Homo sapiens: one gene and its partner. The protein of the gene in region 1 purifies or fractionates together with the protein of each later gene. This does not show direct contact. Each region holds a gene or a part of one and is shown in the gene's direction. Other genes may lie near its edges.

Region 1 (7,688 bases):
CCCCTACATCTCTACTAAGAATGTTTTGTTGCTGTTGTTGTTTTGAGACAAGACCTTGCTTGGTTGCTCAGGCTGGAGTGGAGTAGCAAGATCACTGCTCACTGTAGCCGTTACCTCTCTGGCTCAGGCGATCCTCCCACCTCAGCCTCCCAAGTCGCTGGGACCACAGGCACACTCCATCACACCTGGCTAATTTTTAATTTTTCTGTAGAGATGGGGTTTCTCCATGTTGCTTGGGCTGGTCTCGAACTCCTGGACTTAAGTGATCCTCTTGCCTTGGCCTCCCAGAGTTCTAGGATTACAGGAGTGAGCTGCTGTGCCTGGCCTAAAAACGCTTTTGAAGGCACCAATGACCCTGATCTTCCCAGTCTACTAGTTAATTCTTAGTTTTCATCTTTGCTGCATTTGACGTGGCTTTATCATGTCTTGCTTCTGAAATTATAAAAATTTGGTTTCTGGGTCACCTCCTTCTCCTGGGTTTTCATTGTGCCTTGCTGTTATCTCTTCTCAATCTCTTCTGCAAAATCCTCTTCCTCTCCCTGACTTCTAAAGATTGGCACAGCTTGGGACTAAATTCTTTTCTACCTATACTAACACGCAACATGATCTTTCCAGTCCCGTGGTTTCATATAGCAGCTGTATGCTAATGCATCCCAAATTCATATCTCTAACTGTGATGTTTTCTCCAAATCCCAACTCATATATCTAACTGCTTATTGAACAACCCTACTTGAATGTATAGTAGGTATCTCAAACTTAACTGTCCAAAACTGATTACATTCTAGTCAGGGAAGTAGATAATAAACACATTTAAAAATGAATCTCTAGGCTGGGTGCAGTGGCTCACGCCTGTAATCCTAGCACTTTGGGAGGCTGAGGCAGGCGGATCACCGGAGGTCAGGAGTTCAAGACCAGCCTGGCCAACACGGTGAAACCCCGTCTCTACTAAAATGCAAAAATTAGCTGGGCATGATGGCGGGTGCCTGTAATCCCAGCTACTCGGGAGAGTGAGACGGTAGAATCACTTGAACCCAGGAGACGGCGGTTGCAGTGAGCAGAGATCGTGCCACTGCACTCCAGCCTGGGTTGCTGAGTGAGACTCCATCTAAGAAAAAGAAAAAAAAAAATCTTTATTTCAGCTAGTGCAAACTGCTACAAGGAGAAACAAAGCCAGAGAAGGGAAATGAGAGCTTAAGTATTCGAAGGAATTAGGCAAAGCCTCACTCTGGCTCTGCAAGGTCAGAAGGAAGGGCAGTCAGTGTGCAGAGAACAGCAAGTGCAAAGATTGATCTCCATTCCACCCAAAACTCTTTCCCCAATTTAGCTAATGGTATCACTATTCACTTATTTGCCCAGGCATCAGAGTCACTCTTCATTCATCTGTTTTCCTCACCCTTCACAGTCAATTCATTTAGCAATTCCTGTTGGCTCTAACTTCAGATTATATCTGGAATCTGATCATTTTTCGCTACCTTCATTGCTTTCATCAGAGTCCTACCAATCATTGTCCTTGTCCCGACTACTACTCCACAGCCTTCTACCTTGTCTTTCTGCTTTTATTCTTGCCTACAGACTTCATCTAGCAGCCAGGATGTCTTTCAATAATATAAATCAGATCATGTTATTTCATTGCTCAAAACTGCAGGGGGCCGGATGTGGTGGCTCACACCTGTAATCCCAGCACTTTGGGAGGCCAAGGCAGGAGGATTCCTTGAGTGCAGGAGTTCAAGATCAGCCTGGGCAACACAGAAAGACCCCACCTCTTAAAAAAAAACATTAAAATTCTCCAGTGGCTTATTTCTATCATACTTATAATAAAATCCAAATACTTCACTCTGATTTACAAGGTACTAAATAGTCTGGCTCCCTCTGAACTCAGCTGCTACCTTTGATTTTTCTAGTTGTCACTATCTACCCTAAGTTTCTCCAAAGCTTTTTCTTTCCACTAGTCAAGGTCTTTGTTGCCTCAGTCTTTGCACTTGCTATTCTCCCCAGGTTGACTGCTCTTCCTTCTGATATTGCATGGTCTGAGTGAGGCTGTCCCTAATTCCTTTCAATACTTAAACTCTTTTCCCTCCTCCGGCTTTATTTCTCTTTATAGCAGCTTGCACTAGCTGAAATAGAGTTTTCTTTGTTTGTTTATTATGTGCTTCCCTGATTAGAATGTCAGCTTCATGAAAGCAGGAATCTTGTCTCTCATGATCACTGGTAGATTCCTGGTACCCTAAAACAGTGCCTGGCACATAGCAGGCATTCAGTTTGTTTGAGTAACTGAATGAATCCAAGTGCCAAATTAGATGTCTCAAATTTAGCATTCCCAGACTAAAGACACTATCATCTTCTTGCACAAAAATCTTCCAGGATTCACTATCCTAAGTGAATTGGGTCACCAACCAGTCTCTCCCTGTAAAAGCTCAATGAGTAATCCTTGGCCGTTTCTCTATCTCTCCCTTGGCCACTTGAAATCCGGCTCATTGTACATAATAAACACTCTTGAAACTTCCTTGCATCGCTATTTCTCCAAGCCACTCACCATCATCTCCACCTGGGGTTTCGAGCCTCCAACCTAGCTTCCTTCTAATACATTCATTACACTGTCTCCATGTAATCTTTCTAAAATGCAAATATTGGTCAGGCACAGTGGTTCACGCCTATAATCCCAGAACTTTGGGAAGCTGAGGCGGGCAGATTACTTAAGGTCAGGAGTTCCAGACAAGCCTGGCCAACATGGTGAAACCCCATCTCTAATAAAAATACAAAAACTAGCCAGGCGTGGTGGCACACGCCTGTAATCCCAGCTACTTGGGAGGCTGAGGCAGGAGAATCACTTGAACCGGAAGGTGGAGGTTGCAGTGAGCTGAGATTGTGCCACTGCACTCCAGTCTGGGCAGAGTGAGACTCTGTCTCAAAACACAAAAACAAACAAGAAAACAATAAAATGCAAATCTTACCATGCTGCTCCGTAGCTGTAAAAGCTTGAGCCTTCCCATGGCCATGAGAGTGGTTTTTATCTTTCCTGGCAGGCAATAGGCTCTGTGTGGGCTGAACAGTACCTAGCATTCCTTGAATTAGAATGCATTGATTTGGTGAATATTTAGGAGAAATATAAAAATCTACCCTTTATTTTTTGGATACAGGATCTCACTATGTCACCCAGGGTAGAGTGCAGTGGAGCAGTCATAGCTCACTGTAGCCTCGACCTCGTGGGCTCAAGCCATCCTCCTCCCTCAGCCTCCAGACTATGGGCGTGTGCCTAAAAATGTCTATTTGATGTAGCAACATGAGATAAATCTGGAGAAACAGGAGGGAATAGTTGTTCCGATCATTACTTTTACATTATTATAACTGAATACATTGTTATTTTGTAAATGATTACAGCCTGGAATTGAATAGGGGGAAACGGAAGCAGTTGTTACAATCATTATCAATTTGAAAGTGAAGACTTCTTTTCTCTCTCTTTTTTTTTGAGACAGTCTCGCTCTGTCACCTAGACTGGAGTGCAGTGGCGTGGCGATTTCGGCTCACTGCAACCTCCACCTCCCGGGTTCAAGGAGTCTCCTGCCTCAGTCTCCCGAGTAGCTGGGACTACAGGCACACACCACCACACCCGGCTAATTTTAGTATTTTTAGTAGAGACAAGGTTTCGCCATTTTGCCTAGCTTGGTCTCGAACTCTGACCTCGGGCGATCTGCCCGCCTCGGCCTCCCAAAGTGGGATTATAGGTGTAAGCCACCGCGCTCGGCTGAAGATTTCCTTCAAACCTTTCGTTCTACCTTATCATTTTCTTTAAAGTTTTAAAAAATTGTTATTTATTTATTATTTATTTTTTTAAGACGGAGTTTCACTCTTGTTGCCCGGAGTATAATGGCGCGATCTCGGCTCACAGCAACCTCCATCTCCCGAGTTCAAGCGATTCTCCTGCCTCAGCCTCTCGAGTAGCTGGGATTACAGGCGTGCGCCACACGCCTGGCTATTTTTTTTTTTTTTTTTTTTTTTTTTTTTTTTTTGAGACGAGTCTCGCTCTGTCGCCCAGGCTGGAGTGCAGGGGCGCGATCTCGGCTCACTGCAATCTCCGCCTCCCGGGTTCAACCAATTCTCTGCCTCAGCCTCCCGAGTGGCTGGGATTACATACAGGTGCCAACCACCAAGCCCGGCTAATTTTTTTGTATTTTTAGTAGAGACGAGGTTTCATCATCTTGGCCAGGCTGGTCTTGAACTCCTGACCTTATGATCCACCCGCCTCGGCCTCCCAAAGTGCTAGGATTACAGGCGTGAGCCACCGCGCCCAGCCCACGGCTAATTTTTTTATTTTTAGTAGAGACGGGGGTTTCTACATGTTGGTCAGGCTGGTCTCGAACTCCGACCTCAGGGGATCCGCCCACTTCGGCCTCCCAAAGTGCTGTGATTACAGGCGTGAGCCACCGCGCCCGGCCCCCCCCCTTTTTTTTTTTTTTTAAAGGAACAGGACTTGATCTTAATTCTACAATTACTTTCTCCCATACTCCCACTCCCGCCCAGAACAAGATAGCGACAGGCCCTAGCGGGCCACCGTCCACAGGGCGGATCCGCCAGAAGCTCTCCTGCGACGCGAAGATCCACTCCCTGAGCCCCCGGCGCTCCCTCCGCCTCACTTCCTCCTCCAGGCTCCGCCCCGCGCCGGTGCGCCTGCGCACGGACGAACACGTGGCTGCAGCGGGGCCAGAGCAGCAATGGCGGCGGGCGGCGGCGGTAGCTGCGACCCCCTGGCCCCTGCTGGGGTCCCTTGCGCCTTCTCCCCGCACAGCCAGGCCTACTTCGCTTTGGCCTCTACCGACGGTCACTTACGAGTATGGGAGACGGCCAACAACCGGCTGCACCAGGAGTACGTGCCTTCCGCGCACCTCAGTGGTACCTGCACCTGTCTGGCCTGGGCGCCAGCGCGGCTGCAGGCCAAGGTAAAGCGAGCGGGACTGCGCGGGGCGGGCGCCTTCCCGGGCTCGGCTTCGGGCCTCCGGGCCGGGTGGCGCGTGGTCCGGCATCGCGCGTGGCTCTCAGCGGCCCGGGCCAGAAGGCTTGGAGGCGGCGTCGGCGCGTTCAGGGCCCAAGCCGCCAGCCCCGCGTGCGGCCTGCCGCGAGGGCAGTGAGGGAGGGCGCAGCTCGACCCGGCCGGCCTCGTATCCGAGCCCTGCCGGCTGGCCCAATGAGGCCTGGGCCCCACTGTTGACGGGCAGCCATGTTCGCCAAGTCCCCTGGTCCCCCTGGGGCGGCTTCCTTCTGCCGGGCCTTGGCTCATCAGAGTTCTGGTTTTTGACAGAGCCCCATCTTGGGACTATCTAACTTTCCTCTGTCTGTGATCCGGCTCATCAGTTTTGCACTGGGCAGTTGGTATGGACTAGTCTGTACTTGCTTCCGGACCTTCCCCCTCCTGCCCCCCCTTTGGGTGCCGGCTCACCACGTGTTCTCGTCCCCGTCCAGGTTGTGGGACTCTCAACTCTTAACTTTTGCCTTTCCCAGGCACCTCTACATTCTCAGCTTTTTGAACTCACTGCTTTTTGATTTTAACATCTGCTCGCCCCTCCCGCCCCGCTTTCAAGCCGATCACACTGCTCCCCACCCACCCCAATCTGAAGTCTGTATTAGGATGTGGAGGTTAAGTGAAGTAGTAGCTTGATTTAGTGAATGTTTTATGAGTGCAGATGAAATTACCCTTAGATGGAAAACTGCCGAGTTAGGCAGAGCTTTTCATTGTTAGGGACCCGTGTCAGGTAAATGCCTTTCACTGTTGAGTCACTCAGCTACATCTCTCTAACTCAGCATGCACGTGGTTATTGCGTTTACAGAGTAGCCAAACCGAATCACTGCAAAGTGATTTGGAAACATCAGGTATCCTGAGGTGTGTGATGTGAGCTGTTTCAATGTGGAGAACTGTAAAAGCTATTTAGGATCTTACTCTCTCTGACGACCTGGGAAGCCTGCTAAATTTTTGGGTTGGGAAAAGGGATACATATAAGTTGCTATACTTTGGGCATGTTTAGATATTTTTCAAATTTTAAGCTACATTTTCATAGTTTATCCTGTTGATTCATAAAATAAACCTATCAGGGCTTATAAGTCAAACATAAAACTAAAAAAAAAATCAGTTTTTATTGTTAAAATTACAGCGCTCTGCTTATCTTTTATTTTCAAAGTTTTCTGTGGTTGTATTTTAACAGTCCTGTAAAGTGATAGTAATACTAATGCTGAGAGAAATACGGAGCAGTGGTTAGGTAGGTGCGTGGACCCAAGCTGGCTATATTGTCTATATTTGATTCTAGCCTCTGCTTCATAGTGGTAATTGCCCCTCTGGTTCCTCATTTATGAAATGAGGATAATAATATCTTCTTCATAGAGTGGTTGTGAAGGTTAATATATTTAATAATGCAGAGAACACTTAGAATAGTTCTTGACAGGTAAGTGCTTTAAGTGTTAAGTATTATTAATATCTGATATTTGTGTGGTTAGTCCTGAAGTGTTGATAAGGAACTTTCTGCCTTGTTTCGGGGAAAGAAACAGAAACTCTGGGAAACTAAGCAACTTGAATAAAGTAAAAAATGGAACCAGGATTAGAACTCAGGTCCTTAAGAGCTCGGTTCTTGGTTATCTGCAACAGATAGTTAATATTAGGTTGGAAAAAATGTCACCCACTTTGCTTTTCTGTTGAGTTTCAGTTGCATTGTATGCCCAAGAGAAATTTCCTAATCTCATATTAAAAGTCATAGTTTTGGATTATGTGCAACACTATGGTAAACTAGAAAAATAACTGGATTTGGTTTCATAGCCCAGACTCAAAACTTACTTTGTCATATTGAGCAAGTTGTTTTAATTTTGAGGACCTCATTGACAAACGAGAGTTGAGCTACATTAAACAAAATTTTTTTCTAGGTTTCAGCATCGTTTTATCTGCACTGTCTCCTTTTAACCACATGACTATGGAATCCCCTGAAATTAATTGCATTTTAAAAAAACTGATTGAAAATCAGAGCTAAGAAAGGTAAATGACTTGACTCAAGCCTTAATAACCAATAAAGGAGTGTGGCCTCTAGAGTCATGGTGCCCCGAACTCCTGGTCAAGTGCCCCGATTTTGTTACTCTCAATCTTGAGTCACAGAACTGAGAGAGCTGGAAGGAATGTAGAGACATTCCCTACTTTGAGGGTGTGTCCTCTTGGAGCATCAGTTTGACTTATAAACTAAGGAGAGACAGTTTTCTTGTATTAAAACAAACTTGCACATATATTATGGTATAAAATTAAAAAGTCATATGTACTGTAACAAGATATCTTAGAAAAAAAAGGCACATGTTAAGGTGCTCTCATCTTATTAAACCCTTCCTTTTATTTTACATCTTTGAGGCTTAGTGTATGAGGCATGAAAAGGATGTTGCTCTGAACCCACTTTCCAGCATTTTGTTAAGGTCCTGCTATATGATGACATATAGTACTCTCAAATTTGAAATAGAGGTATCATCACCCACCTTTTAGGATCCTCAGGATCAAATTAGGCAATGTATGTGACTGGTGTAGTATGGCCTAGTATGTAATAAGTGGCTTAATAAATGTTATTATTGAGTGAATCTGGACTCGTTTTACCATTTAATTTGGCATTTAATATGGTAAATCAATTTGTAAGAAAAGTATTCTATGTTTGGTTTAGTAATTGGCAGTTTGCTAC
Region 2 (7,035 bases), about 160 Mb from region 1:
CATAATGAATAAAGAAACATGGAAAAGTGACACCTCCTCAAGGGCATAATACCGAATTCTAGGCAAATCCAGGGTTAGAATCCAAATGTTCCCTTGCTCTTCCGTTAACAGCATACTGCCTTTTGAAAAGAGGGAGTGTAGGTAGAAGTGTAGCATAGTATAATGTAGCATGGATGTTGTGATTAGATAAGGAATCCACTCTCGTACTGTGGCTATAATAACCACTTAACAGATCTTTGCTGTGTGCCAAGAACTTGGCTTAGAGCTTTGTACCCATTATCTTACTCTTCAAAAGAACACTGTAAGATAAGCCTGTTGTCTATATTTTATAGGTGAAGAAACAGGCCCAGAGAGATTAAGTGGTTGTCCCTAGTCACTGTTGTTATAACTTGTGCTTTTTTAAAATCACAATCCTATGCTGCCTTGATGTTCTTTTAAGAACACAGTCCTAGTTGTCTTTCATTCACAGCGTTGCCCTCTAAGCTCGAAATAAGCTTTAAGAAGTCATTTAGGTGACTAAAAATAGTAAATAATGACCAGCCAGTTTGACTAAGTAGTTTCCTGTCTATTTTTCCTTGCCCCAGGTGGGGCGTTTCACGGCCTTTCCATTTTTTATTTTCAAAAGTAGGCAGGAATCTGGGTTCTATACAAGTTTCCTACAGAGTTTGATACAGTAGGCTTTTGAGTATCATTGATTGGTGACCTGTATTATCCTCATTTTGTACCAATGTACTAGTGGGTTGACTACTACACAGAATGTTCTCTAAAGTCACACAAGGGCAAAGGTGATATATTAGAACTCTTTGCGTCCTGTGGCCATTAGAGGTAGAGCACTCAATTGTTTGTCATTCTACGTGATTATCAGTTGCCTGTTGTTCAAGATGCTATTGTAAAATGTACAGCATGTCAGAAATTCTTATATACATCACTTTGTCCTCATGCAAGAATAAATTTGTGGTTTCCTTCCCGCTAGGTTTATTCTTAACACTAAAATTAACATGCCACACGAAGACTGCATTACAGCTCTCTGTTTCTGTAATGCAGAAAAATCTGAACAGCCCACCTTGGTTACAGCTAGCAAAGATGGTTACTTCAAAGTATGGATATTAACAGATGACTCTGACATATACAGTAAGTTATTAAATATGTTATGTTTAAAGTGTGCACAATTTTAGGAATTAATTTCTTTTTCTCATGACTTGTATCCATCCTGGGAGGACATTTTCTACTTTATTGAATTCTACAGGATATTGCTTAATCTTAATAGATTTAAGAGATTACATTTTACATGCCTTTTTCCTCAAATCTGTTCTTTTTAAATGGCATTCTTGATTAATCATGTGCTGATTATTCTGTTTTTTTAGGGTAAAGTAAAAGGGGCTTTTACCAAGAGTCCTTTCACTCCTCCACTAGAGGGAGGTCAAGGTCTCCAGGAGAGGGCATAAATTTCAGAACAGTCAGTATTTTGTAGCAGTTCTGACTTAAAGAAGTTGTGGGGAACAGGTTTTCTTGTTTTGTGTCTTTGTTTCTTTTTTATTTTATTTGTTATTTGTGTGTGCATCTTTGTTTCTTAATCCCTACTGCTTATAATGTCCCTCATTTAGCAGTCTCCCTTTAACAGTGGGGGATACAATCCAAGACCCCCCCGCCCCAGTTGATGCCTGAAACTGCAGATAGTACCGAACCCTGTATATACTGTTTTTTTCCTATACATACATACCTGAGATAAAGTTTAATTTATAAATTAGGCACAGTAAGAGGTTAATAACTAATAATAGAATGATTACAATAATATACTGTAATAAAAAGTGAATATGTGCATGCTCTGTGTCTGCCTTTCTCTCTCTTTCAAAATATCTTTTTGTACTGTACACAGCTATTTTCAGACCTCAGTTGACCCCTAGGAACTGAAACCACAGAAAGTGAACCCTCAGATAATGGGAAACTAGGGGGAACTACTGTAGCATTCTCTAGCATTTACACAATTTCTGAACATTATGGCTTATATTTCCACAGAAAAAGCTGTTGGCTGGACCTGTGACTTTGTTGGTAGTTATCACAAGTATCAAGCAACTAACTGTTGTTTCTCCGAAGATGGTTCTTTACTAGCAGTTAGTTTTGAGGAAATAGTCACAATATGGGATTCTGTAACATGGGAACTTAAATGTACATTTTGCCAACGAGCTGGGAAAATAAGGTAGGTAAATCTTCGGGAAGTATGTAGTACTATTTTTTAACTTATTTAAACAAGTCTTAAAACTTTAGTAGTCATTTATGCCCTCTCCAAAAGTAGCCTGAAGGTCAGTGGGGCAAGCAGCTAATCAAAATGCTGGAAAGCCAAAAATTCTGAGTCCACAAACTGTGCCAACATTTCTGAAATTCAGGTTAACATTTAACTCTTGGCCTACATATTTTTTCTTTGGAATACTTTCATGGATGTGCTGAATGGTAACAGAAGCTATACATAAGCCTCAGGGGATCCAAACCTTCTTATTTTCTGTGTATTCCCATAAAAACCGTGTTATGCGCCAACCTCATTGTTTCCGAGAGGTGCAGGGGAAAGTAGCAGCAGCATTTTCAGGTCCTGCTTCAGGTAGTTGGGCCTGAGGACAGAATCAGATGCCTAATGAGATCGTCTCTAATTCCCAGCATGTCTGATTCTGAATTTACTTTGTAAAACTTTCTTCACAATTGAAATCGCAAGTTTTCTTCTTCTTGGTAAATAGGATTTTTGTCAGATGACTGTACGTTTCATGTACATTTTCTCTGTTAGATGTAAATTGGTATACCGCACAGTGTGTTAAAGAATTGGTCATCCGTTCTGTTTTCCTAAAGAAATAGCTAACTAGACCCTTCCTTTTGTACTCCTTAGACACTTTTTTCTTCAGGATAATTATAAACAAAAATATATATGTCTATATAAAAATCTGCATTACATAGAACAGCCGCTGGAAGCCTGCAGTTCTTTGTAACTGAATTTGCTAGAACTGACTGTTGCTAACTTCCTTGTGGTTTTAATCTAGGCACCTTTGCTTTGGGAGATTGACGTGTTCAAAGTATCTACTTGGTGCTACTGAAAATGGCATTCTTTGCTGTTGGAATCTGCTGAGCTGTGCATGTAAGATATTTTTTACTCTAAAGTGATCTGGCAAAGCGCATAAGGAGTTGACATTAAACTTTGGCATTTTAGGACTTAGGGATCATATCATCAGGTCTGTACTTGGAATAGTCAGTTTTTTACGTGACATATGATGCCACCAAAATTTGGAATACTGGGCCTGTAATAGACATTATTTATTAACTGCTTAATTGTTGGTACGTCAGCTTCCATTATCCTTACCTTTTTCTACTGTTTTCAGTGTGTGTGACTTTCTGATGCCCTCCATATTCCCCATCCTCGTAACAATTTGAATAATGTTTTCTGCTCATTTTTAATACTTACTAATCTACATTATCCCTGACAGCTTAAATTCAAATGTAGTCTATCACAGTCCTAACAAATGTGAACTTAGTGGCATTTTACCCATTTGAGTGTATGTTTGGAAGGCATAGTAGCTGCTTATAAATGAATGTGTATGGTAACTTTTTTCAGTATTCTTTACAGTTAACTCTGGTTAACATACTGTACACATTTAGCAGCATCAGAAAAGCACTAGACATAAATTTCAATGAAATAATAATCTTTTCATAGTTTGTACAAGGAGCACTACAGTTCCAGTATGTTTTTCTTTCGGCCTCTCACTTTAGTGCAGCATTCTACAAATCATTTCAGTGTGTCTCCATGTGTGTTAGTTGGAAGCATAAGATTCCTCTTCCTAAGAATAAGAGAAGTTTTTTAAAGCTTTTGGTAAATCTTTCCTTAGAAGTGAATCACCTTTGTTTTTCCCCTCAGTGGAGTGGAATGCAAAATTAAATGTTAGAGTTATGGAACCCGATCCTAATTCAGAGAATATTGCTGCAATCTCTCAGTCTTCAGTGGGTTCAGACTGTAAGTACAAACCACACTTTGTAGTAAGAGAACATCTATGACCTAAGTTTTCTTCTTAATATAATTTGAGCCAAACTTGCCTTCACATCAGATGTTAATTGGAAGCCATTTTGCTTGAGGCACGGCCCTTCTTTGCCCCAACACTTTGTCATTGTGTGCGTCCATACTTAGTTCTAGGAGAGCTCCAATATGTTTCTTATTTTTCCACAAGCCAATTCGTACTCAATCTTTAAAATTCAAGAGATTTCACCAGTTTGACATATTTCCAACTGCCCCTGAGAAGCTTTAATTGGTCATCCTCTATGTTCTTGAAGCAGTTTCTACATATCTCATTTCTAGTACTTACAGACAAAATACTACTGTAATAATATTTTGGTTTCTGTCTTCTGCAGTGGGCCCTGGCCTCTGGAGCACGAATTCTTCTTTCTGTTTTTCATCCTCATAGCCCTCATTCCTAACCTGCCTGGCCCATAGTAGGAACACAGTAGATACCTCTTGAATCAAAGCCTAAAACAGTCATGACTTGGGCCAGTTACTCAATGGGGTGAGTCCCAGGATTAGTGTGATCTGCCAGTCTGAGGCTAGAACTAACCTTTTCAGGCAAAATGTTATTGTTTCTTTGTTTTTTCCCTCTAGTGTTTGTATTTAAACCTAGTGAGCCAAGGCCATTGTATATTCAAAAGGGTATCTCCAGAGAGAAAGTCCAGTGGGGAGTGTTTGTTCCACGAGATGTCCCTGAATCCTTCACCTCAGAAGCTTACCAGTGGCTAAATAGATCCCAGTTTTACTTCCTAACAAAATCACAGGTAACTGCCTCCCTCAAAAAAGGCGATCACTTTGTACATGGAATTTTAGACTAATAGCCCATGACTATTGGTGTGAGTTTGTTTCTAGGTGAAACAGCTTCATTAAAGGATTATTTCCCAAAAAATTGTCTAATATGCTCAGTACAGCAGCATTATTAATGTAAATGTATTACCGTTTTACCCCACACTTTTGAGGTTCCTTAGGTATTGCTTGTATTAACTCTGTGACAGCAAAAAAGCAGAAGACAACTAAAATACTTTAAATTGCATGATTCTTTTTTCTTTTTCTTTTTTTTTTCAGTGTTTGATTTGCAATTTTTAAAATGGTGGCTTGAGTTTTGTCTGTCAGTTATATTTTTTATTCATTACCATTTCTTAAGTATCTCTCAGACATAATCTTGTAACTCTCATCGTGGTTATTAAATAGGTTTAAATCTTTTATTCCTTTTCTGTTGTCAAATATATATATCAAAGTGAAAAATTTGACCTTCTCATTTTTTAACACCCTGTAACACCTTGTTTAGATTTGCACTCTACAGTTTGTCTTTTGCATCATTAATTCTCTCTTTTCAGAGTTTATTGACATTCAGTACAAAGTCTCCAGAAGAAAAACTCACACCAACAAGCAAACAGGTATGTTTTAGCCATTCATAGCAGGATGTATTGCCTCCCTAAAAGGATACAATTACCTTTTAGAAGTCAACTATGAAAAAAATATTTCACTTGGCCCTAAAATAGAATTAAAAGCCATATACTTATAAACTGATATGTGTCTCTTGAAAGTTTTAGTGCTCTTTTAAAATTATTTTAATTTATAATATCAGTAATATATAATTCTGATTTAAAGAGTCAAATATTTTTACAAGGCTCTTCAGAAAAAACTTCTCCAACACCACTACCATTACCCACAAAGACAATCACTCTCAAATCTTTTAGCTGAAGTTTTTATTTAACTCTGAATCTCTAAGAAATCTCTAAGAAATGTTTATATTTCTAATTATAGGTTTTTCAGATTTAGGTATTATCTGTTAACTCTGATCTATTGACGCTGAATTTTTAGCTGTTTTTCACATCAGCACTCCCTGCATATACACAACACACACTTTCCCTACTTGTCCCCCAATTTTCCCCATATGGGTAAATGTTAAATTGGTTAGTTCAGTAGTCATTGTCATAGCTGTGTTAACACAATTCATAGCCAAGCCATGTAGTAATAGGCAGATTGTTTTTCCTTTTGTGACCAAGTTTTTATTTTCTGTGGAGTTAATGATTGCCTTGTTTTTTCATTTGCTTAGTTTTCTATTCTCATGTAATTCAACCCCAAATTCTGCTCAAGTTGTGTAAGTATTCTCTCAGTGTTTTCAGATACATTAGGTATTCTTTCAAGTCATAAAGGATTATTTCCAAGAGCCTTCTGACTGTCTTCAGTCTGGACTGATTGCTCTGGAAACCTGCTACACAGTAGTCATCCTAGGATCTATATTCACCATCATTCTGGGGATTTGTTTGACCTCTACTCTATTAGTGGTGTGGTTTTTCTCTTTCTTTGGTCACTCCCCTGTTTTGGTGAAGCATTCTTTTAGTGCATTGGAGGTCAATTTAAGACCTTGCATGTTTGGAAATGTTTTTATTCTCTTTCACTTGATTATTATAGAGTTGTAGGTTGAAAATCATTCTCGCAGAACTTTGACATTATTGTCCTATTATTTTATAATTTCCATTATTACTAGAAGACCAATACCATTCTTGTTCTTGTTCCTTTGTCTGTAACTTGGCTTGTTTATTTTCCTTTAAAACTCATTGGATTAATTCAATAATTTTTTGTTAATTATTTACTGTACGCCAGGGACCATTGTAGACAGTTGGGATACAGTAGTGAGAAAAGTAGTCAAGTCTCTAAACTTGCGGTATTCACAGTCCACCAGAAGATAGAGACAGTAAACAACATGCATTAAGTAAAATATGGAGTAGAGAAGGTGGTAAGAATTGTGGTGGGGTAGAGAATAGACGAAAAGATGGCATGCATGGGATGCAGCTTGTAATTTTAAACAGGGAAGTCTACGTAGGCCTTATTGAAAAGATTCTGACTTTTTCTCTGAGTTACATATAGGGCCCCTTGGAGAGTTTTGAGTAGAGAACTAAGGAGGAGCTAATTACTTCTTTCTCTATTCTTTTTCTAGAACTCCTATTATTTAGTGCTGGACTTTCTAGAATGGTTCTCTATTATTCTTATTGTTTTGC

Evidence for each region.
Region 2: the proteins of WDR43 (region 1) and WDR75 purify together in Homo sapiens (affinity purification with mass spectrometry; 2 studies listed by BioGRID and IntAct, with this or other methods). This does not show direct contact.

Annotation. Positions count from the first base shown.
Region 1 is NC_000002.12:28,889,990-28,897,677, forward strand, and holds the start of WDR43 (WD repeat-containing protein 43), read left to right. Parts: upstream 1-4,677; 5' UTR 4,678-4,709; coding exon 4,710-4,934; intron 4,935-7,688. UniProt on the Homo sapiens protein: Ribosome biogenesis factor that coordinates hyperactive transcription and ribogenesis. Part of the small subunit (SSU) processome, first precursor of the small eukaryotic ribosomal subunit.
Region 2 is NC_000002.12:189,465,452-189,472,486, forward strand, and holds part of WDR75 (WD repeat-containing protein 75), read left to right. Parts: intron 1-973; coding exon 974-1,131; intron 1,132-2,016; coding exon 2,017-2,197; intron 2,198-3,023; coding exon 3,024-3,118; intron 3,119-3,892; coding exon 3,893-3,988; intron 3,989-4,624; coding exon 4,625-4,794; intron 4,795-5,367; coding exon 5,368-5,427; intron 5,428-7,035. UniProt on the Homo sapiens protein: Ribosome biogenesis factor. Part of the small subunit (SSU) processome, first precursor of the small eukaryotic ribosomal subunit.